3 separate regions of the Homo sapiens genome follow, and all the other regions are linked to region 1. Evidence: fine-mapped expression QTL. A gene starts in region 1. Each other region holds a variant in brackets. All regions are shown on one strand. Distances are between the middles of the regions.

Region 1 (8,109 bases):
AAATGAGAAAGGACGGTTGCATAGGCTGAAGGGAAAGGAGATATAGATGGAGAGGGAAGCAGGTCGCAGAGTCTGGGGGAAAAAGAAAAAATGCAGAGAGGAAAAATGGAAAGGGACGTGGAGAAGGAGGAGCAGGATGAGAAGAATGCAGAAAGAGAACTGTATATTTTCCAGAAAAGGAACCAAGAAAAACGATAGCTTTCTGGCATTTGCCGATGCCCCCTTCTCTCCCTCTGGGGGGTTTGTGTGTATAAGTGCGTGGGCAGGGAGGCCGCGGAGGCGGCGCCGCGGGCGCTCTCACTTGTAAGCTCCTTGAAGACCAGGACACCGTTTAATTCAGCATCTTACTGTTCACAGTGTCTAGCACCCTGTCTTGCTCATGCGTAGCAGGAGCTTAACAAACACTCCATGCAAACAACCTCTGACAACAGTGGATTCCTGATTCCTTCAGTGGGAAGAACCACAGCTGTCAAGCTTCCCCTTAGGATGCAGAAACCCAATTACTCTTTCCTTTGCTTCTTTCTTCAGTTGGGTTCTTTGAGTTGGACTCAAATTGAGCCAGGTAGCACAGAAGAGCAGGGGAGGCACATTCGGGGACCATTGCTCCCCTGACCATGGATACTTCTATGGATGATTGGCAGGCTCCACGATCTGGAGGGAGCGTGACCCCTCCATGCACTGGGCCCACTCAGAGCACGCCCTCAGTGCAGGGATTATCTGTGGACATCAAACCTTGTCAGTGGTGGTAGCCCTTGCTTTCTGTCAGTGCTCAGCAACGGGGGCTCTCCTGGGGCTCTGGGCTTTTGTAGAGCACCCTGTCTTCCTGTCATTCCCTTCTTCTCCCCCGGGGTAGGGCTGCTGTTTCCACAGAGGCACTCGTGTCTCTAAACTGTGTCCCAGCTGAGTCCCAGGGGCCTCCATTCCTGAGCTATCACGGCAGGCAGGCTTCTCTTCTGGAAGGGAAATAATAGTAACAGCCAGTGCTTACATGGCTCTTACAGTGTCCCAGGCTTTGTGCCAAGTGCTTTATATTTACTAACTCCTAAACCCTCACCACCCCCCTATGATGTAGATTTTGTCATCTCCAAATAGAGAGGAGGTAACCAAGACACAGAGCTGAAATAACTTGCCTAAAGCCATGCAGCTAGAAAGAGGTCTAGCTGAGACTGGAGCCTGGGCAGTCTGGCTCCTGAGTCCACGCATTTAACTCCCACATCAAACATTCCTCTTGAGAATGGGAGCAGTGGTGAAGTCTGGCCTTTCTTCCTCTTCTGTCTCCATTTAAGCCCTGGATGAGAGAGAGTCTTTCTTTTTACTGCTTGATTCTGTGGACCACCTCCCATCCTTCCTTAGCCTGTTTTTTTGTTGTGGCCTGGAGCCACGCTCTGGCAGGTGCTTGCATTTGAGTGAATGTGTATGTGTGTAGACTTGATTACACTTCATCACATGGATGCCCGGGTCCCCCAAGTAGGGTCCCCTAAGATGGGGTGGCAGTGGGGGGAGGTGCTAGAGGACTCAGTGGTGGGTGCTCAGAAGAAGCGAATGACGGCAGAGCCAGGGAATCAAGAAGGGCACACACATCTTGAAAGTAACTTTCCACTCACCTACCCCACCCCCACTGCTCCTTTCCTTGCCTTCTAATCTGATCTTGGTATTTATGGAGATGCTAAACAGATCATGTCCTCTGAGGATGGAGAAGGGGAAGACCCTATGGCCCTGTTGATCTCATTACTCTATGTCTTCTCAGCAGATCTGCCGCCCTGCTGCTCATTCAGGCTTGGGGCTAATCATATTAATTGAAATATTAAACATTCACAAAAATGAATTAAAATGAACTCCCCTCACTCCTCCTCCCAGTCAGTAATTGGGGAGACAGCTGCAGACAGCAAAATGCGTCCAGTCCTTTGCTTAGTTTGTGGTCCCCAAAGGTGTCAGTCTGAGAGAAGAGGCAGGGTTTAGAGGAGAAGAGTTGTACCACTCATCAGACTCTCCTTGCTGAGTGACGGTGAACACATCTCTGGTGTTCTTTCAGGCCATGGGATGGGAGTCCTGTGAGGTAAAGGCAGGGGAGCCCTGAGACTCAGATGCCTATTCTGGAAAGTTTCTCTCTAGGAGAGAGAGAGGCTTCCAGGATACTTTCTCTGCCCACCACCCCCAAGCTCACCCTCTTTTTTATTCCTCTGCAGTCAAAGCTAGGCTGCCCTACATAAAAAGATTATTGAATTTATAAAGGGAGAGCTCTGATCCTGGCTTTAGATTCTTAGGAAATGAGAAATGCTGGATAATTGGGATATTTTTCAGAAAGGGCAAAATGTGGTGGTATGTGTGGGCAGAGTGGCTAGTCATGAAGTACTTACTGGCTTCCCTGATTGAATACAGAGTGAAGACATCTGCAGCAGAATTTATGAGAGTGCACAAAGAATTGATTCTATAACCTTCCTGCCCTCAAGTGGCTTCCACCTCAAGTGGAAGGTAAGACAGGCCAACACAATACATAATAGTGAGTACTGAGACGCTGTTAAAAAAACAAAAAGTAGCCCCTCTCATACATGGGCATTTGGGTCATAGGATGTGATCAGTGAAGAAAGGCTTGATTGATTATCAAAGCACAAGAAGATCACAGATTGGCAGACGGAGGGTATCAATCATTTCCTACTTGGAGGTGGGGAGGTAGAGAACACTGTGCATGCCTGTGTGTGTTTGAGTGTGTAGGTTTGCTGGTCCAGGCTCTGGCATTGTCTAATATAATACAAGCCACATATATGGTTTAAAAATGTCTAGTAGCCATATATAAAAGCAAAAAGAAACAAGAGAAATTACTTTTAATAATAAATGTTATTTAACCTGATATATCCAAAATACTATTTCAACATGTAAATCAATTACATGTTATTAATGAGATTTTTTTCATACCAAGCCTTCAAAATCCTGTGTGTATTTTATATTTGCTGCACATTTAACACCTACAGCCACTTTTCAAGTGTTCAAGAGCCACAGGTGGCTTGTGGTGACTGTACTGGCTGGCACAGCTCTGGAGGTGCCACCACCAGCTTCTCTGGAGGGAGTATGGGGAGAAAAGACAGATCTTGGCCAAGAGGAACCATTATCTCTGGTTAACCTCTTGCTCCTGCCGGGAAAAAAAAAATCACTTCTGACAGATGGCAGCTTATCTCTCTCTCACTCTATTAACTCTCTCTCTTAAAAAAAGACAATCAACCAAAATGATCACTAACCAAGATGGGGTTCCTGGGAAGTGGCTTGTAGCCCACTACCTAATTTACTTCTTGTGGTTTTCCCTGGCTTGGGAACTGCCAACACTTTCACTTCTTTTCCTCAGTCTTTGCTGGAAAGGACAGAAGCAGACCAATGATAACCCCTCCACGGCCAGGGCCTAATGCTGAGCTTGTTTCTCATGGTATTTTCTTGCTCCTTAGGGCAGTTGTTCACAAATCTGAAAAGACAGCCTCCCTTTTTTCTCCTGCTTCTCAGAAGGCCTCTGCTGAGCACGATCTCTGTGGGGGTAGGAGCTCGGCATGTGTGTATTGACAGACAGGCTCATGCCCTTTCTCGTGGCTATTTTCAGCTCTCTGGCTTTATGTTTCACTTTCTCTTCTTAATTAGATACTAGAAGAACAAATCTTGAAGACCAAATTCCCTTTCTCCTCCCGTATTCAGTTGGGAGTGGAATAAAATAATTTAGAATTTATGAGGAGCCCAGGGTGAAGAGAAAGTTAATCTACACAAAAAAGTCAGTCCAAGAGGGGGAAATTCTGGCAGAATGTCCCCCAGGTCCTTTCCAGCATCTTTAGTCGGACAGAACGTTCCTTCCTTTGCAGAACTCAGCTCACTCTATGTTCTGGGGTGCTTCCACGTTGTTTGAAGAATCCACGGCTCCAGTGTCGAATGTGTACCGGACAGAGGGACGGGTTGGCTTCTGGGACAGTGGAAAGGGAAGAAGCTTGGGTTCTCTTTCCCCAGTACTAGGCTTCCTCTAGCTTCTGTCCAAGTGAGGGAGTCTGGAAGCAGATTCGGGGAGACCTTTTTTCCTGTTTTACTCTAGAGCTAACAAAAAAACCCTGAAGTTGGGTGGGGTCAAAAAGGGCTCATTCCACATACAATTAAGTCCAGAAATCAGTCCCCCAATCCGGGAAAGGCGATCCTTTAGAGACCCACCCCCCAAGCCCCCGCCCCGGAGCTCACCCCTCAGTTCCCTCAGCCCCTAGCCCCTGCTTCGCTGAAGGGGCCGGGCTTGGGGGCAGGGCGGGGCCGGGGGCGGGGCCTCGCCGGCTCGCGGCCGGTCGCCTTGACGACCGCAGCAAGATGGAGACGCTGCCAGGCTTGCTGCAGCGGCCCGACCCCGGGGCGCTTAGCGCAGCGCAGCTGGAGCAGCTGCGAAAATTCAAGGTGGGTGCGCCCGCGCCCCCATCCAGCGTCCACCAAAGTGTAGCTGCCCCAGGACTGGGGCCCCAGACTGGGAAGAGAGCCGCCGAGAGAAGGGGAGCGGGAGCCTGTTCCCTGATAAAGTGGGGAGGGCGCAGGGGAGACCCCCGGCGGACCTCTAGGCGTCTGATCCCAGCACAGAGCGCGACGGGCATCTGAGAGTGCAGGAAGAACTAACTCAGGGACTCGGCCAGAGAAATGGGCCGAAATTACTGCCAGACACATCCGACCTTAGTAAAGGCCCCTCATCCTGAACAAGCGGCAGAATGATATTTTATCTGTAAGAAGATGGGTGGCTTAAACTTTCAAGCATCCTGGGGAAAGACTTGGGTTAAATGCGCACGCCGTTTCCCGCAGCCCTTCACATCTCCAGGGCTGAACCCTGAATCTGTCTCCTAATGGAAGTGACCCTTTGTTCTTGCCCCCCAGATTCAGACTCGGATTGCTAACGAAAAGTACCTAAGGACCCACAAAGAAGTAGAGTGGCTCATAAGTGGTTTCTTCAGGTAGGTGGTTTTCCAGGCTCTGGGATTTGTGGCACGCAGGGTTTTCTTCGTTATCTCTAGAGGTTTCCTTCAGTTATCTCTAAATTCTTAAAAATATGTCTATTCATTTACTTTAACCATAAGGATAAATACATACCTTATGACACTTGGAAGAGGGAATTTGGCGTTGCGAAACCCAACAGCCATCCACTGGGTGTAGAACACTATTCTCAACCATAGGAGCTTAACAAAATCACTAGTTGAACTTAAAACAAAAATCAGTTGTCTGGTTGGCCCTTCCCTACTTGAAAACATTACTGTAGAAAAATTCCAAGGGTTGGAAGCCACTCTTTTCTTGGGGAAGAGAAGACAATTTACCAGCGTATCCTGGAATATGTTCTTTCCTTCCCCCACCCTCCTTTCAGCCTGGCATTTGCTTGAATGGAAACATATCCTAATGGGATGAAGAAGGAGAATTAAAAAAATAAATCACGGAGCATCAGTGGATGAAAACAATAGAGCTATCTCAAATGCTGTTTGGTTATAGACAAATAGACAAGGTTTAAATAATTATAATGGCACCCATCTCCAGGCATTGTGCTGTTCCCCTACATTAGCACTTACCACACTGTATTGTAATTGAGCTGTCAATCTTCTGTTACTGGTCCAAAGCTCCGAGCTTGTGGAGTGTGTTTGTGTTCTCAGTGCCCACGCAGTGTGTGGCATCTTGGAACACTTTTGCTGATCCTCCCAGCACCTCCACAAAAGACAGGTGATTGTCATTTTTATTTTATAAGTGAGAAAATTTAAGCTTAGAAAGGTGAAGTACCTTCCCAAAGTTGCTGAACCAGGATTCAAACCCCTGGTTTTCCCACTGTATTGTGCTGTAAGCAGTCGGTCCCCATTTCCCCTCTGGACTGTGTGCTTATAGCCAGAGGTGGGCCCTCCCTTGTCTTCTCAAAAGTTGGCGAGGTCAGGCAAGGTGGCTCATGCCTGTAATCCCAGCACTTTGGGAGGCCGAGGCGGGTGGATCACCTGAGGTCGGGAGTTCGAGACCAGCCTGACCAACATGGTGAAACCCCGTCTCTACTAAAAATACAAAATTAGCCAGGCGTGGTGGCACATGCCTGTAATCCCAGCTACTTGAGAGGCTGAGGCAGGAGAATCGCTTGAACCCAGGAGGCAAAGGTTGCAGTGAGCTGGGATTGCTCCATTGCACTCTAGCCTGGGCAACAAGAGCAAAACTCCATCGCAAACAAACAAAAAAAAGTTGGCCAGGCAGATGCGTTGGCTCACGCCTGTGATCCCAGCACTTTGGGAGGCTGAGAGGGGTGGATCACTTGAGGCCAGGAGTTCGAGACCTGCCTGGCCAACATGAGGAAACCCTGTCTCTACTAAAAATACAAAAATTAGTCAGGCGTGGTGGCACGTGCCTGTAATCCCAGCTACCTGGGAGACTGAGGCAGGAGAATCGCTTAAACCTGGGAGGCAGAGGTTGCAGTGAGCCGAGATTGCGCCACTGCACTCCAGCCTGGGCGACAGAGCAAGATTCTATCTCATGAAATAAAAATTAAAAAAACTCACTATTCATATTATAGACGTTTCTCCAAGTGGCAACAAATTCTCAGAGGGCAGATAGGGGAAGGAAACAGAGAAAACTGAAACCTATCCAGTTATGAAGGTTGGCCAGGGATAAGCCTTGGGCAAAAGAGAGTTTAGGGATCCTCTGTCAATATCAGACCTGAGGATCAGGCCGTCACCTTTTGCAACTTTTCTTCTAAAGGGAAATAAGATGATATCGTTCCTATCCTGGGGAGCTTGCTCTCCAAGTTAGTAGTAGTTCCAGCAGAGAGATTGGGGATAGAAGTTAAAAGCTGAAACTAAATCAACATTTGCATTGCTCACAAACAACAGGATTAGAATGCTTGGGGTTGATGAATAAGAATGAGTTGTTTCAGTCACCTGTCAGAGATGGCCTTGATTCTCTCTTTGTCCAGGAACAGTTTCCAGGAGCAGCCTGGGTATCTGAGACTGGCTGCTGTGGGAACAGCCCCAGATACTTCCTTTCCTTTCTTACCATGTTCCTGTCAAGGCCAGGTAGGCCACCAGGTTTTTCTTTTTGCTGTCCCTAAAGCTACTCTACCTGAAATTCTTCTGACCTCTTTTCCTGGGTGGAGCTTGCAGAGGGTTTAGTGTTTGAAGTTTTAGGGTTTACTTTTGTTTGTTTGGTGTCATTGTTCCCTTTGATTGGTACCGGGATGAACCAGAATCAGCTTCTGTCCCTGCTGGCCACCTCACATGGTCCTTCCTATGAGAAAAGAAGAAGGGAGAAGTGAGGGCAGAGTCCTGAGCACCGTGCCTGTCCTTGTCTGTTCTGCAGATATCTGCTGTTGATACATTCCAAGCCAAAAGAAGCTCTGAAGGGTTCTTTCTGGGAAGCAAACTCCCCACTTGGGTTTTTTAGATCCTAATGATTTATGGCCATTCAGCCACAATTCTCCAGCCTATATTGGTAAATACAGCGTACCAAACTCTTAACACCTTGAGTTTTGGACCTGAAAAATGGAAAGAGTAGGAATCTGACTTATTTTAAGGTACACAGAAACCTCAGGTTTTGTGCTGCAGATATGATAGATAGCCAGGTATGAAATTGTAGAAAGTATTTTTTTTTTTTTTGAGACGGAGTCTCGCTCTGTCGCTTAGGCTGGAGTGCAGTGGTGCGATCTCAGCTCACTGCAACCTCCGCCTCCCGTATTCACGCCATTCTCCTGCCTCAGCCTCCTGAGTAGCTAGGACTATAGGCACCCGCCACCACGCCCGGCTAATTATTTTGCATTTTTTTTTTTTTAGTAGAGACGGGGTTTCACTGCGTTAGCCAGGATGGTCTTGATCTCCTGACCTCATGATCCACCTGCCTGGGCCTCCCAAAGTGCTGGGATTACAGGCATGAGCCACCGCACCTCGCCTTTTTTTTTTTTTTTTTTTTGGAGACGAAGTCTCCCACTGTCATCTGGGCTGGAGTGCAGTGGCGCAATATCGGCTCACTGCAGCCTCCACCTCCTGAGTTCAAGCTATTCTCCTGCCTCCACCTCCCAAGTAGCTGGGATTACAGGTGCCTGCCACCAGGCCCGGCTAATTTTTTGTATTTTTAGTAGAGATGGGGTTTCACTATGTTGGCCAGGCT
Region 2 (8,109 bases), 100 kb after region 1:
ATCCCACGACCTGTCAGTTTTCTCTCTCCTCCATCTATTTGTGTAATTGCAATTTATCCTGTAGTCATTTCCCCAGCTTAAGACAGGGCCCTGCCAGTGTTGAGGGCCCTGCAGGAAGGCGCTACTCAGGCATTTTCCTGGCTGCCCAGGAGATCATCCCTGGAGTCAGAACAAAGGCCATTAACCCCCTTGTTTATCTCTAAGGAGACACTGTGTGTGTGTGTGTGTGTGCGCGCGCGCGCGCTTGTGTATGCACACGCACACATGCATGCATACACATGCCTATGACTCACCTTGCACCCCTCACAGGTGATAACCCCGTAGTGGATCCCAGACGACTTGTCCCCACAGATTTTGCAAGGGATCACTTCAATTTGTGCTGGAAGAGAGAAAGAGAAGTAGGTCAGCCCAGGAGGCTTTTCTGCATTCAACCACCATGTACCTGGGCTGCAGATACAGGTACCTGGTGCTTCCACTACTTCTCCAACCAGCTCCAGCTTGCTGTTTCCCTCTTGCAAAATGGAAGGGGAAGTGAAATGCCAAATGCTTCTCAGCAAAGGGTGTGAGGAAGCTGTGTTTGTTTCACAGAGGAGGGGAGTGTGGAGGGGTGGCCGGGAGTTGTATCAGTGCTATGGAGGCAGAGAAAGCAGCTGCAGAGGGGCCACCTGCTCAGCCCTTCGAGTTGAAAAGCTCCAGTTGCCTCCCTCCCGCCTTGGGACATAGGACTCCTCACGGCCTCACAACACCTGCTTCCCGCCGAAGGGGCTTCCTCTGTGCCTCCCTCCCTCGCTGGGGCTCAGCTCCCATGGGCAAAGTGTAGGGTATAGCAGGAAGATGTGGTACACAAGGGGTGGGGGATAGGCAGAGATGCCAGTCCTTCCCAGCCAGACAGTGAAGGCTCAGGGAGGTGCTATACAGAGACAGGGTGAGGGGGTGGCAGGGAGGAACCCAGGAAACGGGGGCTCAACACCCCAGCTCTGCTGGATGCCTGAGAGCCTAGGGAAAGAATTAGCCAGGGCTCTTAGGCTCTTGGCCCCAGAGCAGAGAGAGGGTGGCTTTGTGTACATCCGTGTGTCTGAGTGTGAACACTTATGTTTGTACAAAGGCATCTGTATCCATTTGTGTGAACATGAATCATCAATGTTAAAAATGGCTGAGACTAGAGACCATCTCATTCAACCTCTTCATTTACCGATGAAGGACTAAGCCAGATGAGGCAAAGCGGTTGGGCCAGGGTCATAGGCTAGTTTGCCTGAGAGCTGGATCTACATCCCAGTTCCCCTGAGCTTTCCATTATGCTGTTCTGTGTACCTGTCTTTTCGGGTACACATTTCAGTGGGCATGTTTGAAGGTGTGCTTGTGGGTGTGCATATGCAAGAAAAGTATGTGTCATTTGTGAGCCTACGACATATCTGGTTGCTCCTGCGTCCACACGTGCATATTTGTATGTTAGTGTCTGCTCATGGGGCACTAGGACCCCGGGTTCTCTCTCCCACTGAACTCACTGTAACCTGTACCTGCTTCCCTACCCCTGTGGTTTGCTGCTGGCCCTAAGCTCATCTCTGCTTTGCCCTGTTCCTGTCAATGCCCACGACTCTCTGCTGAGCTTCATGGGACCACAGGAGGCCTTCTCCCAGCTCTTCCTTGAAAGGTAGCTGGGCAAAGCTTGGGATCCCTGGTTACTGTAGGTGTTTTTAGCATTTCCCAGAGCACATGGGTCTCTTTTCCACCATCACTGACCTGCTGCCTCCCCTCTGAGTGGGGAGCCCTGGGGCGGGACAGGCCAGAAAAGTGAAGAGAAGGGCCAAAGCCCCTTTTAATCTATGACGTGTCTCCCACCAAAGGGGCAAAAGAAGTGGCAGCCTCTCTGGAGGGCGAATGCACATTGCTGTGATCTCACCTCCAGTCCCTGGCCTGGACACTGGTCACATGTAGGGCCTGTTGATGTGAAGTGGGCAGGGAGACCATGGCTTGCCCGCCATTCCCCAAAATATTATTTCCATCATTCTTAAACCATCATCCCTCAGGCCAGACTTGAGGTGAGTCAGAGGCAGTAGCTGACCCTGACGGGGACAGGGCACATGGGTATCTGAAATCCCTTCATTAGCACTCAATTCCTCACCCAACCCCCAGCCACACGTGCCTGCCCAGCAGCAAGCTTCCAGTGCTCACACTGTAAGCTGTGGTCCCCCCAGGACCAGGCGGTAAGTGAGTTTTCCAGGTTCTTTCCAGTAAATTAAGAGCAGATTTTAATACATGGAGGGGAAGAGAGAATAAGAGGGCACTGGGTGTCTGGAACAGGGGCAGAAAACGTTGGGGCCCCCATACTTCTAGTCACTTAGATTCTCCCTCTAGACCTACGTTTTCTTGTCAGCAAGATCAGGATAAAAGTATTATTGCCTGTCCATGGGGTGATTGTAGGTAACAGAGAGTAATGAAATGATATCACCAATGGAAAGCACTGTGTATTCAAGTTACTCCTGAGCAGAGGTCAGGCTGAGAAGACCAGTGGGCCTGGCAAGGCTGAGAGGAGCACTCGGGCCCTGTGGACTCTGTTCTTGCCCAACACCTCCCCCTCCAACACTGTGGCATCTCTCTTTTCAGTGGCCTAAGACCAGAGATGGGAGAAACCAACGTGGGCCACCCAAAAAAGTAAGCGGGAGGGAGATTAGGCCAAGCCGCAGTGGGAACTCGGGCTCTGGCCCAGCAGTCAACCACAGGCCTCCCTGCCTCTTCCCTTCTCCAAGAGCCACATCCGCGTGCGTGTGTGTGCTGACCACATGGTGACCCCAGACACATCTCCCTGCCCCATGCTTGACCCACTGCTTCTCCTGGCCCTAGGAACCTCACAACAGTGTCACCAAGACCTTGACCTTCTCATAGGAAGATGCGGCCAGTCAAGGACCCCCTTCGCAAATACCCATGTTTGGGCGACACCAAAGCCTTGGACTCCAGCCACCTGGTCAGCCCATCCTCCATCCTCCCAGTCCAAGACAGAAGTACCCAGTGAGACAGACACACAAGGCCAAAGACTCTGAGCTAGAATGTCAGACCCCCTAGCCTCACTGAGCTGGAGAGACCAAGAGGTTTGGGTCCAGGAAAAACAGAGACATAGATCTAGGGATGGAGAGACGGCTGCGGAAACACTGAAACACAGAAAATCCACGCTTGTATCCTGGCCTTTGCCCAACCCATGGCCCCCTCAGCACTTCAGGCCCTCTAGTCCTGCTCCCCCCTCCTTCCCCTGCCACCTGCACTCCCTTCAATGCCATCCACCCAAACCTCAGAAAGAAAGTACCAGTGCTGTGTACATGAGGGTGTGTGTTACTTGTAGAGAAGGGGTGGGGGAGAACGGGAAGGGGGCTGGTAGACTTGGGGGTTGGTGAGAGGAGCTGAAAACACCTCTGATGATAACTCACCTTCAAAAGCTACCCCT[G/A]GGAGACACGTCCCTGAAGCAGCAGGTGGTGGGAACTCAGATTGGGGAGAAGGAGCTGAGTAATCACAGGATTACTCAAACTGTTGCCCTGGAGCCAGGCCTGCCAGGAACTTACCATCTAAGGGCCTGCCAGTGCCAGGAACTAGAGCCAAGCAAAGGTCAGGAACCTCGAACCAGCCCCTGCACCACTGCTCCCATGGCAGCCCTAACTCTACCCTCGCCTGCTGTCTTGGAAAGATCTTTGCATCTCACCTGCAGCTCTCTCACTGTAGCTCTCTCCTGAGAGAGAGCTTTCTCCAAAAGAAAACTCCAATTCCACATCTTCCAAAAGGAGAGACAAATGCCCAAATGCACCCGCCAGCTCCTTAAGTCATCTAATGACTGAATGACTATGGCTTTCTGCATCTCAAACAAGATTACCTGGGGATCTGAGGTGGGACTCAAGATTCTGCACTTTGGTCAGCTCTTAGTTGGTGCCTAAGCTTACTGGTCTTCAGCTTATACTTTGAGTAGCAAGAACTTAGTCCCTATTCCTGCCTTTTTGCCAGGCTGCTCCTTCCAGGGAGTGGGGCTGGGGTTGGCGATCTTTTCCTGAGCTCATTCTTGCATCTTTTCTGCCATCCAGTGTGACCTCTAAGACTTCATTCTGAGACAATACTAGAAAAAGAAACTGAATCTCCTCTGAATTGCTTTAGAGACTGAAGTACCCCCAGGAGCATCCTAGTAGCTCCTCCTATGAGGGGAAATACGGTAGAGGCAAAGTCCTCCATCCTCCTCTAATCGAGCCTCTCACAGCTGTGAGATTCAATGATAGTGCTTTGAGTACTTCCAGAGCCTGGCCCTGTGCCAGCTTAGGAAGCCAACCCTGGGCCCTGTCCAGGTGCCCTATGCCACAGAGAGGAAGTGGTAGGAGCAGGGGAGGGGCTGCAACCCAGGGGGATCTCTCCTCTCAAACCCCAGAACCACCACCCCCCCACCATCATGGTAGAGAATGGGTTCACACAGAGAAACCCCGGGGTCCTCATCTCCTCCTGGTGCCTCGTCAATCTAGAGCTGGGCCTTTTCCTCTCCTCTTTCTCTCTCCTTTTTCTCCAGTGGATACTGATTAAGGAGAAAGGATAATGATAGACATAAGCATTGGCTGAATTCTTACTCTGTGCCAGGCTTTACATGCATTTTCATTCAATGATCACAACCACCCTGTGAAATAGGCCCTGCTAGTATCATCCTCATCTTACAGATGAGAAAACTGAGGCCTAGAGAGAATAAACAGCTTGACTAAGGTCACACAGCCAGAAGTGGCAGATCTGGCATTTGAACCTAGATCTCTGTAATTCTGCAGCCAGTGCCCTCAAGCCTTAAGCTATATACTTTATGAGGATAAGACGCCCAAATGCACACCGGAGACCTGGGTAGAGGACATGGTTATTTGGCTGTAGGGGTAAAAGTGTGAGGTGATTGTGGTGGTCTAGGAACAGAATTCACAGAGGAAACCCACAGAACTAAAGCCAGGACTCCTGTTTGTATAAAGATCCCAAGAGATATTATTCCCTCTGTCCCAACTCTTCCTCTGAGGTCCCAGCCTCCTCCTGCCCTTACCCCTTTCTCTAAGGCCAAGTGGGATGACTTATATATCAACAACAGGGTTCCCGGGGACTCCTCAGGAACACCACAGCCCCTTTAGGGTATAGACTAGGTTTCCATACATCTTGGTATGCCTCCCTTTGCAGAATGAATGAATGAGTGAGAAAGAGGAATGCATCTCTTTCCTTAGCTTGAGCTCCTCCTCTCCCCACAGCCAGAACTCTCTGTCTCGATCCCCACCGAGACCACAGCTCCGGTCAGGGGTCACTTGCACACCCCAACCTGTCACCAGCCTCCCTCCTTTCTCAGCTCTCAGTTCCCCCAGCTTCTGCAAAGCTGGAAACCAAGGTGGTGGGTGCCACCACAGGGGAGCAGGAGCGGGAGGGCTGGGTGGGGGCTGGGGGAGAAGTGGTTCTACCTGGCGAACACTACCCCCAGCCCAGGCCAGGGCCCTCACCGCAGCTCCTGGTGAGAATTTTCTGCTGAAACACCCAGATCCTGGGGCTGAGAAAATAGTGAAGCTAAAACTCAGGTGGGCGAGGGAGAGTCTGGGGTTTTGAAAAGCCATGAATGACAGCCAGCCAGCCACCCGAAACCCCCTCCTGGTGCCTCCGCCACCCCCACAGTCTGGGACTGGAGAAAGGCGAGTGAAAACAACCAGTGAATGGGGGAGGGGATGAATCACTAGGAGGAAGCTCTGGCGAGTGGGAGCCCAGACGTCACCATCAGCACCTTCCCTGCCTTCAGGGCCATCTGTCCCTCATCCCAGAGCACCTTCACTGCTCCAGGAGGGTAGTGGACCCAGAAAGACCTTGGCTCTGGCCCTGAGGCCCTGCCTTGTTACTGTCCCTCCCCCGAAATAGACATCTCCATCCTTTTTGAGCCTCAGAGCCCCAGGGAAGGGGCTGCACTGCAGCAGCAGGCGTGGAGGTGAGACTTCAGAAAGGACTAGCTATATGGGAACAGGAGCGCGGGCCTTGGGCTGCCCGCCTGGGAGAGACCTTAGCCCTTGGAAAGTCCTGTTCCCTGTTAGTTTGAGTCAGCAGCACAGCGGCAGGGGATGGGGAGGAGCCCTTGGTAGGGACCGAATATTTTCATTGTGCTGGGACAAGCTGAGTCTTTTCAGAGTCTAGCACCTTGGGCTCGGTGGTTTGGTATTTCTGTTAGGAATGGGAAGACGGGGAAAGAGAAGGGTGCTGGAGTGATGAAAGGAAGGAAGAAGCCCTTCACGGAGTCCTAAGATGGCCCTGGGCTCTCAGGGTGATATCTGTGTACCCTGGGGACTTGGAGTCCTTTCTGGCCCACTGTTCCTCATGATCATGACCAAACCTAAGAAAGATCAGCTCATAGACAGTGACCTCACACCCCTCGGCCTCCCACCTCCCCATCCAGACCAAATGCCAGGGCCTGAGTGCCTATTGGCGCCACGCTGGCCATGCCCTTAGGGGAAGATGTCTGGGCTACCCTCCGTCTGGCTGGCTGGGAGTCTCTTTGGCGTACAGACACATTATCTCCACTTGACAGCAGCAGGTCGGATGGCAGGGTGCTGGTGCCATCCTTGTCAGAGCCACCCTACTTCCCTCTTACCGCTTGCCTAGACCCTGTGTCTCCCTGTCTTCCCTTTACTGCCAGTTATCTTTTCTCTCCGCCTCTCCCTGTGTCTATGTGCCTTGTGATCTTCTGCATTCCAGCTCTGTTTCTGGGCTTCACACCTTCATGTTTGTTTGTTTGTTTAAGAGACAGGGTCTCGCTCTGTCACCTAAGCTAGGGTGCTGTGACATTGATCATAGCTCACTGCAGCCTTGAACTCCTGGGCTCAAACGATCCTCCTGCCTCAGTCTCCTGAGTAGCTGGGACTACAGGTACACGCCACCATGCCCAGCGAATTAAAAAAAACTTTTTTTGTAGGGACAGCGGCTCACTTTGTTGCCCAGGCTGGTCTCAAACTCCTGGCCTCAAGCCTCAGCCTCCTGAAGTGGGATTATAGGCATGAGCCACCACGCCCGGCTGCACCTCCATGCGTTTGGCTCTATTGGTGTTTCTCCAACCACACCTCCAGCTGGACATTACTCTCTCCCTAGGTGTTCCAGAAACTCGCCCTCTGAGTTGGGCCTCTGCATCTCTCCTTATTTCTTGATTTGTTTCTGCTCCTTTTGTCGGGCCCTTGGTCTCTGGGTGTGTCACAGTCCCAAGCCCCATGTGCTTTGACTTTTGCCATCGGCGGTTGGAGGGGCTGGTGGTGGTTGGCACTCATTGGGGTCAGATAACTTGGGGCTATGAGATACCTGTAAATGTCCAAGTGAGAAGGACCAGTGGCACTGACCCCCTCGTTGGAGGAGGCCCTCTCTCCTACTTCCCCGCCTGGGTGGGGCTGTGTGTGTGTGGTGGGGGTGGGAATAATGGAGAGCTGGCCAAGTGTCTCCCTCAGCCCCTCCTGGGGACTCCTGCCCCGCTGCTGGGCTAGAAGCACACCTAGTCATTTCATCCCAGGGTTGATTTGCTCATTAGGGGCCATCTCTGGGAAGACCAGTCTGCCAGCGTTTGCTGCTAATAGAGAGAAGCTAGAAGGGAAACGGAAGCTCCAAGGGGCCCTTTCCTCTGTGTAGAAGCTGTTGGCTCTTCTCTCCAGCCCTCCTTATCCACCCCAGCTCATATGCCTGCACTGTGGCCTCAGTCCCTGTCACAGAAGTGGAATTCTTTTCTTTCCTTGGTTTCCCTTCCTTCTAACCTCTGGGAGAGCTGAGTCTCCATCATCACCCTTGGGGATGCCTGCCTTAGGGCACTGGGCTCTCTCTTGGCCCTGGGCCTTTGGAATGGGAGACTCTCCATAGTTGGTTTTGTTGTTCTATCTTAAAATTCAGCTCCCTTGTTTTGCGGATGGTAGACCAGGGCCCAGTGACTTGGCTTGTCTAAGTCTATATGGCTAGCCAGTGATAGGCGGCACAAGTGCCTGGTCTTACACTGTCAGTCCAGGGGTCTTTCCAGGACTCAATACGGCCTCCCTTCTGTGGCTTGTGGGAAGACCCCAGGTTGAAGCTGGGGCTGCTTCAGGCCTCAGCCACAGGGGCATGGGGCTTCCCTTTTCCTCC
Region 3 (8,109 bases), 90 kb after region 1:
GGGCCAGCAGGCCATAGGGAGAGGCAAGGAGTCCCTCTTCCAGGTCACTTGGACAGCCCCACAGGTGACTCGGTTTCAGTGCTGAAGAGCTCCTTGTAGAGTGGAGGGAAAGCGGCTTGGACCACGATGGGGTGGAGGTGCTGGAAGATCTGCAGCCTTTCCACATGCTGGCTACACAGGCTCCGAAGCTTCCCCTTGGGTGGCAGCTGGATATGGGTTAATGGGGAAGGGAGGGTCAATACTTCAGCTCTCCTCAGAGCAAAGAAGTCCGCTCATTCTTCCTGGGCTAGGACAAACCCTCCTTGCCTTCCCCTTATGTACTTGGCACTTTGGCACCAGCCAAATCCCACTGGTAGAAGTACGTGTGTGTTCAGGACACTGGAGGGAAGTGAGAGTGGGTGGGGCACAGGTGAATGTTTTCTGGGTGAAGCCCTCAATTTATGTTCCCAATACTTCTAGAATGAACCTTGTCAAAGACTCTAATGTGCACTTCCTGCTTTTATAAGAGTGATTGTCTGTGACTCTTGTTGTATGCTGTCACATGCCTCTGCCTTTGTGCATGTTGTTCCCCTCTTCCCATTACTAATCCTTACCCTCTAGTGTCACCTCTCCTAAGACTATTTCCCTAACTGCCTCCCATCTGGATTAAGGGCCCTTCTTTTGGGCTTTCCTCTGTGTAGCACTTACTACATTGCAGGAAAATGGTCCAATTTGTCTGCCTTCCCACCCTAGATTTCAGCTCCTTGGCTGAGGTCTCTCTTTCCCTGTCTCCTCTGTACCTATCATAATGCTTAGCACATGGCACATGCTTAATAACTCTTTGAACTAAACAGACTTTCTAAGCAGGCACCTAACACTGCAAGTAGCAAACCAATGCTGCCAGCACTCAGCCAAAGGGGAGATGAAAAAGGCACAGAAACCAGTGAGCAGACGGAGGCAGGGAGACCTCACTGGAGCAAGGCTGAAAGAACAATTTATCTCTTGCAGTCTCCTCTACAACCAAGAGGCTTAAAAATGTCTCTTGCCTGCCATTGCCTCCCTCCCCCAGCTTAGTTTCCTTGGAAAGAGGCAGTCAGAGAAAAGCAGGCAGCAGGGTGTGATCCCTTCATATCTCCTAGATTCTCTCTCTTCCTCACCACTGCTTTATTCTGAGCTTTTTTGGGCTATGGCAATAGCTTCCTTCATTCATTCAACAAATATTTGTTGAGAACACATCTGGATCTGAGCTAGGCACTGTGATGGCCTCTAGTGATATATCAGATATATCAGTCAATAAAGTATAATCTGTACCTTGATTAAATTTACATTCTGGTGAGGGGCCCAGAAAATAAATATGTAGTGTATCAGATAATAAGTTCTTTAAAGAAAACTAAAGCTTTTTGTATGGGGTTACTGGTCAGGAAAAACCTCTCCCGAATGAAGAGATGGGGTAAGCCATTTGGAAAACTGGGGGAAGAACCCTCCAGGTGACTACAATAGCAGGTACAAAAGCCCTGCGACTGGGTTTGATGTGTTCGAGGAATAGCAAGGAAGCAAGTGTGGCTGCAATGGGTGTTTGAAGGGGCAGTGGAAGATCAAGTGAGAAAAGAAGGCAGGGATCATGTTATGAGCCACTTGACCATGACGCAGACTCTAGATTTGATTCTCGGCATCACAGGCAGCTACAGGAGGGCTGAGAACAGGAGTCAAGGCCAGGTGTGGTGGTTCACGCCTGTAATCCCAACACTTTGGGAGGCCAAGGTGGGCAGATCACCTGAGGTCAGGAGTTCGAGACCAGCCTGGCCAACATGGTGAAACCCTGTCTCTACTAAAAATACAAAAATTAGCCGGGCGTGTAATCCCTGTAATCCAAGCTACTCAGGAGGCTGAGGCAGGACAATCGCTTGAACCTGGGAGGTGGAGGTTGCAGTGAGCCGAGATCACACCACTGCACTCCAGCCTGGGCGACAGAGCAAGTCTGCCTCAAAACAAACAAACAGAACAAACAAACAACAACAACAAAAACAAGAAAAAAACCACAGGAGTAGGGCATGATGAGATTGCATTTTTAAAAGGGCTACCGTGGGTGCGGAGTAGGTGTGGTTGCTACAGGGCAGATGAGGGTGGAACAGGGGCTCAGTTAGGAGGCCTCTCTTAAAGTCCAAGTGAAAGCTGAGAGCTGGTAGGGGCCAGGGTGGTGGTAATAGTAGGGAAGGTGATGTATTTTGAAAGCAGATCCAACCGGATGTGCTTTCCAATTGCTCTCCCAGATTCCTGTCTCTCCTCCTTCAAATCCATCCTGTAGCAGATTAAAGTTCAAGTTCTTGAGAGCACAGACCGTGTAAGTCATTGCTGTATCCTTAACACCCAGCCCTGTGCCTGGCACATAGCAAAGGCCTGCTTGAATAATTACATAAATGGTTCCTTTATACTGGTTCCAAAGTAAATTGCCTAAATGACAGCTCTGATTGTGTCATTTTTCTAGCCTTTGGAGCTCCCTGTGGCCTAGAAATAAAGCTTTAACGCTTATATGGCATTGAAAGTCCTCTCTGATTTGCCCCTGACCTAATTTTCAGGCTGATCATCTGGTGCTCTTCTGCCCCACCAGTCTATCCCAGCTCCTGATTTTACACTTTAGTGAGGATGTACCATGAGTGATTCTCCACATACACACTATTTTGCCTCCTTATTTTTCTCCTGTTGTTCTTGGTCTTCATTGTACCCTAGTCCCACACCCAAATCCCATAAAACAATTATCCCCAGCCTCTCATACTCATCTCATCCATTTTTTTGGTTAAACCTCAGGAAAAGGATTTTTTTTCATTTTTTTTGTTTTGCTCCTATTGTTCCCTAAGCCTGGAATGCCTGCCCCACCCCCATGAATGCCTGTTAAAATCTTACATCATTCATGGCCTAGTATAAATGTCATCTTCCCTGGGAAGTATTTATGACCCACTCCTTTTACCCCCAAATTATTTTTAATCCCTGTTTTATACTCTCATAACATTTTCCTGGTGTCACTTATTATAGTTATACATAGGGGACACAGGGATAGAAAGAGCGCAAAGAGCACTGGGATTCAATCTTGCATTTAAGTCACTGAAGTCTCCTGATAGCTACAAGGAGATTTTTTTTTTTTTTTTGAGACAGAGTTTGCTCTTGTTGCCCAGGCTGGAGTGCAATGGCACAATCTTGGCTCACTGCAACATCTGCCTCCCGGTTTCAAGCGATTATCCTGCCTCAGCCTCCCAAGTAGCTGGGTCTACAGGCGCCTGCCACCATGCCTGGCTAATTTTTTTTATTTTTAGTAGAGATGGGGTTTCACCATGTTAGTCAGGCTGGTCTCGAACTCCTGACCTCAGGTGATCCACCCGCCTTGGCCTCCCAAAGTGTTGGGATTACAGGCGTGAGCCACTGTGCCCGGCTGCTACACAGGGAGATTTGAACACCTGTCCTATTGACTGGGTTGCCATGAGGATGAGAAAGCATGTCAGCAAAAGCACTCTGTTAATTGCATTATTATTATATCACATACCACATTCTACTCTATGTTAGAGTTAGTGATACACAGATCTCTTCTTCATACCAGATTAAAATCTCTTGGTGGGGGCAGCGACCAAATCTCTGTGTCTTTCCACAGTGCCTTGTACAAGCAGGTGCTGGGTAAGTGCTGGCTATATTAAACTGAATTGTTCCCTGGAGGTCCCTCCCAATCCCAGGCCCTCTAACTTTCCAGTCTTTATGCACGTGGAAGTAGCTGTTCATTCCCTTAGTTCCCACTGCTGATGCAAGCTCTCTAACAGAGAGTGGTACTCCCGCACTCCCTCCTCTGTACCCACAGACCCCGGCCCTCGCAAACTCTGATGTTACAGAGCTAGCGATGGGCCTGGCCTCTTCTACCCCAGGGACTGCTCCTACCTTTGCCAGGATGCTTTGGCGATGAGTCTTGCAGAGATGATGATGAAAGGCCAGCTCCAGATTGTACTGCAGCTGTTCTACTTTCCTTTTCTCTTGGAGCCCTGGCCGATCTGGAGGAGGGGGTGGGACCGTAATGAGAACAAGAAAGAACATGGACATTAACTCCCAACAAAAGGGTGTATCTTTGTGGACATCTGTGCTGGATAGAGGTCTTCTAAGCTGAGCGCGTGCATGTGTGTGCCTTGGTTTGATAATGGTAAGCTCTGGACGTTGGGCTTGGCTAGCTGTCTACAAGGAAAACTGGGAAGAGATGAAAGGTATGAGAATTTCTGATCTCCTGACTCCAAGCTACCTTCTCCCTGGTAACCTGATATTCCACATAGCTCATTCAATGCTAGGCACTAGGATTCTGTCATAGGGGTAACAAGAGTTGGAAAAGAGCTCCCCCATGTACGAAAAGGGCTCCTGATAGGAGGTGGCCTTCCTGAAGGTGCCCAGGCCTGCACCAGGGGGCTTGCAGCAATCTGTGACTAACTTTTGCCCTGATTCTATAAAATATCCAGAAGTCATCTTTAAAGTTTTTATCTTCTAGTTTGAAGGGCATATTTAGGTGTCCACTCACTGGCAGAGCCAGAAGACTGATAGTCTCGATCTGCAAACTCAGGTTAGCAGCTTGACCCACTTCCCTAGGTTCTCTGAATATTTAGTATTCATCTGGCTCAGCCCAGCTACTCCATGCCAGGGGA[G/A]TGGATAGGATATCCAGAGTCTTCCTATTATAGGCATACAGCCTTAAAATTAGTTCACACAGAGCAGTGATTCTTAATCTTGGTGGCCTGGGGGTGGCTGTTAAAATTCAGTGCACCCCTTATCAATTACAGATGGTCCCAGTCTTATGATGAGTTGACTTACTATTTTTTGATTTTATGTTGGTGAGAAAGCCACTTGCATTCAGTAGAAACCATACTTTGAATACCCATGCAACCATCCTGCTGTTCACTTTTAGAACCATATTCAATAAATTACATGAGCTATTCAACACTTTATTATAAAATAGGCTTTGTGTTATATGCTTTTGCCAGACTGTAGGCTAATGTAAGCATTCTGAGCACATTTAAGGTAGGCTAGGCTAAGCTATGGTGTTCAGTAAGTTAGGCGTGTTAAATGCAATTTCAACTTACCATATTTTCAACTTACGATAGGTTTATTGGGACATAACCCCATCATAAGTCATGGAGCACATGTACACTGGAATCTCTGGAAGTGGGACCCAGGCAGCAATAGTTTTTAAAGCTCCCCAGGTGATTCTGATGTGTGCTACAATGAAATCACTGCCATAGACTAACAATCAGACACATTTCTGTCAGGAAAGTGGCTCATTTCCTCTCAACCTCATTTCTCCCCACTTCCCACAACCCCACCTTATGCTGCTCTTGTCCCTCTCTGAGAGTCCTCTGAATCTTTATTTTAACTCATTTTATTTTATAGCAATACTGAGTAGGGCTCATTCTGCTATTTAAAGCAATTTCCCAGATTTAACTACATCTGAAGGTCTAGACTCTTCTTCAATATCTGCCATGCCCCTGCCACCTGAATGTCCTTCACCCAAGCCCAGCAACACTCACGGGCATTGATGAGAACAAGGGCTGTGTAGAGGGCAATCTCATCCTCGGAAAAGTGCAAGGCACTTAGGGAGTGGGAGAAGTCAAAGATGGAGCTGATGAGCTCGCTGCAGCCTGATGGAGTGGAAATGAGAAAAGTGAGAGAGTGGCTGGAGCGATGGTGCCCGAGGACACCGCCCTTATTGTGTTTAGAGCAGAGGGGGCAATTCGCCCTGAAAAGAGGGTGCCCTGGGTCACAAAGCTTTGCCTGGGGTTGGCATCAGAATCTTCCCTCTCATTTCTCCCTGCCCCTCACCCAAGGCTCGGAACAGCTCCATGCCACCGTATTTGCCTTCAAAAAAGACCGTGCGGTTGTCAGCATTGTAGGCCCGGCACATCCTAACCAGCACCACTTCCATTGCTCCTGGGCAGTGGGGAGAGAAGATGCAGGGACAGTGTCAAGCAAAGCCAGGATCTGACTCTGTCCCCCTGATTTCCTTAAGCCACCTCCCTCCACTTGGCTCTGTCCCCTTGTCCCCAGGCCTGCCCACCCATCCCTGGGCACCTGCTTTGAGAAGCACAATCTGGTCATTCTGGCAGAGCTCCATAAAGCCTGAGAGCCTCTTGGCGAACTCCACCACGTACTGAATGGCCTCGGTGAGGTGGTGGGCACACCGTTCCCACATCTCCCACATGGACTGCAGGGAGGGAGGAGGGTCCCGCTGTAGCGCTCTGTGTGGCCCTGTGATCCTCCTGAGCCCTGGAGCCCCACCTAATAAACTGCAAGGGGTAGGCTCTGAACTCCTATGTTCTCAACTAGCATTTTCAAAAGCCTGGTCTTAGCACAAATGCACAGATTCCTGCCAGTGAGTCCCACACACTGAGCACCTACCGGCTGCTGACACCGAGTTAGCTGTTGTGAGGGAATCCAAAAAGTATGAGATACAGCTTTGCCCTCCAACAAGGTATATCTCGTTGAGGTGAACAGGACATACAGCTGCCCCTTCCCCCACAAAGGTTATGCCCAAGGTCTCAATAACCTGGAGAAGCAAATGTGAAGTGCCAAACGAGTGTGTTTAGAGCAGGTGGTATGAGAGTGTGATCGAAAAGGCAGCATAAACTTTGGAGCCTGATGAATCTGAATTTGACTTTGGTTCCACCACTTTGTGACTTTGAGGAAACCTATTAACCCCTCTAGGCTCAGTTTCTGTCTGTTAAAAGTAGGAATAAATGCCACCCTCATAGGTTGGTTGTGGTAGGGGCTGAGGATAATTTACATAAAGCGTTTAGCACAATGCCTGGCAGAGAAGGGGTGTTTAACAAATGGTAATCAGGGTTCTGATTATTGTTATTGTTGATGGAAGAGGAGGAAGGAGGGTGCACCAAGGTCTGCATGGTAGAGGAGGTAGGATGAAGGCCAGGTACAATTTTAATAGGCAAGAACTAAGGAAAAGCGCTCATCCATCTGCTGGGGTGTAGACAGATACACACATTCGCAACTGTACATAAAAGGTGTGCACATGCTTGTTGGCCAGCCTGTGTCTGTGATGTCCCGCCCTGCCCCAGGACCCAGTCGTGCGCAGGTAGCCATCTCTGAACTCTCCCGGTGGGGGTGGGATACGTTCCCTTCCTGCAGGTCTCCTGGCCTCACCTTCCTCTGGTAGCCAGTCACTTCCTCCCGGGAGAAGATGTTGGAGCGCTGCCGCAGCAGGTCCTCCAGCCGCAGCTGGCATGTCTCCCTGTAGGACTTGCAGACGCTCTGCACCAGGTGCTCTGGGGCCGGAGAAGGAAGGCATGGCTTGATCTCAGCCAGCTCCTACGCCTACCCATGCAAGGGCACTTCTCAGCCTGGCCTATCCTGCTCCGCCTCCTCCCTCCGCCCCTCGTCTGGACCCCTCAATTCCCTCAGGCGCATGTTTGATTGATACGGGGTACTGGTGGAAACCCCTCCCTCATCTCTACCACCCTCTCCACCTCCCCAGCTGCTCACCTATCTCTGTCAGGGAGGCATAGGGTGCCTCCGGTGTGCTGCGGAAACTGGGGCTGCCGTAGCTGTCTGGGCCCTGTCCCAGTTCCCCAAGCCCAGGATGCCTGTGTTCCTCAAAACGAAGTCCACATCGGTCAGGGGTCAGCTGGCTGCCTGTGCTATAGAAGCTCTCTCTGCCCTCAGCCTTGCCCCGCTCAGGGCTGTATTCAAGGTGGCATGAGGCCCCATTGAGCCCTGCCTTGGCCAAGTTGTTGGAATATGAGGGCCCAGAGCCTGAGGCTTTCAGGAGGCCAGGGGGACAGGCAGAAGCCTCAGGCAGGTCAGGCGAGGAGCCCAGGGGCAGCTGCCCGTCTGGGAGCCCCAAGGTGTAGGTGAGGGTATCTGCTCCTTGGGCCCCTGCTGGAGGGGTCTTGACCACTGGTTCCTGTTGCTGCTGTTGCCGCTGCTGCAGCTGTTTCTGCACTTCTGCATGCAGGCTGTCCCTCTGCTTCTTGGACATGCGGCCGAACTTGACAGCTGAAAGAGGTCCAGGGACCAGGGGTTTATGAGGCAGGAGAACATGGCACAGGGCAGGGTCAGGAGGCATTTGGTCATTAAAGGATTAACTTGCTGCTCTCTGAATGGCTG

Which allele goes with the higher level. Positions count from the first base shown, and alleles are read on the strand shown. Sizes are in standard deviations (SD) of each study's normalised expression. Not every link is listed here.
For the expression in anterior cingulate cortex of the gene that starts at base 4,306 in region 1, allele A in region 2 goes with a lower level than allele G (small effect, 0.32 SD a copy in GTEx).

What was found. PIP is the estimated chance that this variant, and not a neighbour inherited with it, causes the effect. A credible set is the group of variants that fine-mapping cannot tell apart.
Region 2: its variant is the best candidate, but not a certain one, in a credible set for the expression of RIIAD1 in anterior cingulate cortex (GTEx, PIP 0.55).
Region 3: its variant is the best candidate, but not a certain one, in a credible set for the expression of RIIAD1 in skeletal muscle (GTEx, PIP 0.88).

What each region holds. Positions count from the first base shown.
Region 1 is chr1:151,717,217-151,725,325 of GRCh38, forward strand. RIIAD1 (regulatory subunit of type II PKA R-subunit domain containing 1) reads left to right here and starts at 4,306. Exons shown (of 5, transcript NM_001144956.3): 1 at 4,306-4,404; 2 at 4,870-4,946. The coding sequence starts at 4,321. RefSeq lists a silencer at 4,191-4,260.
Region 2 is chr1:151,816,902-151,825,010 of GRCh38, forward strand. It overlaps RORC (RAR related orphan receptor C), which reads right to left. Exons shown (of 11, transcript NM_005060.4): 3 at 294-379. Among named protein-coding and RNA genes, the nearest start is that of RORC, 11 kb to the right of the region's middle. RefSeq lists enhancers at 5,182-5,683, 5,684-6,183, 7,953-8,109. The variant G/A (reference allele first, on the strand shown) is at 3,437.
Region 3 is chr1:151,807,428-151,815,536 of GRCh38, forward strand. It overlaps RORC (RAR related orphan receptor C), which reads right to left. Exons shown (of 11, transcript NM_005060.4): 5 at 7,486-7,998; 6 at 7,147-7,268; 7 at 6,061-6,193; 8 at 5,812-5,919; 9 at 5,520-5,630; 10 at 3,898-4,007; 11 at 1-206. The coding sequence ends at 45. Among named protein-coding and RNA genes, the nearest start is that of LINGO4, 6.1 kb to the left of the region's middle. RefSeq lists enhancers at 1,419-1,919, 7,514-8,014. The variant G/A (reference allele first, on the strand shown) is at 4,644.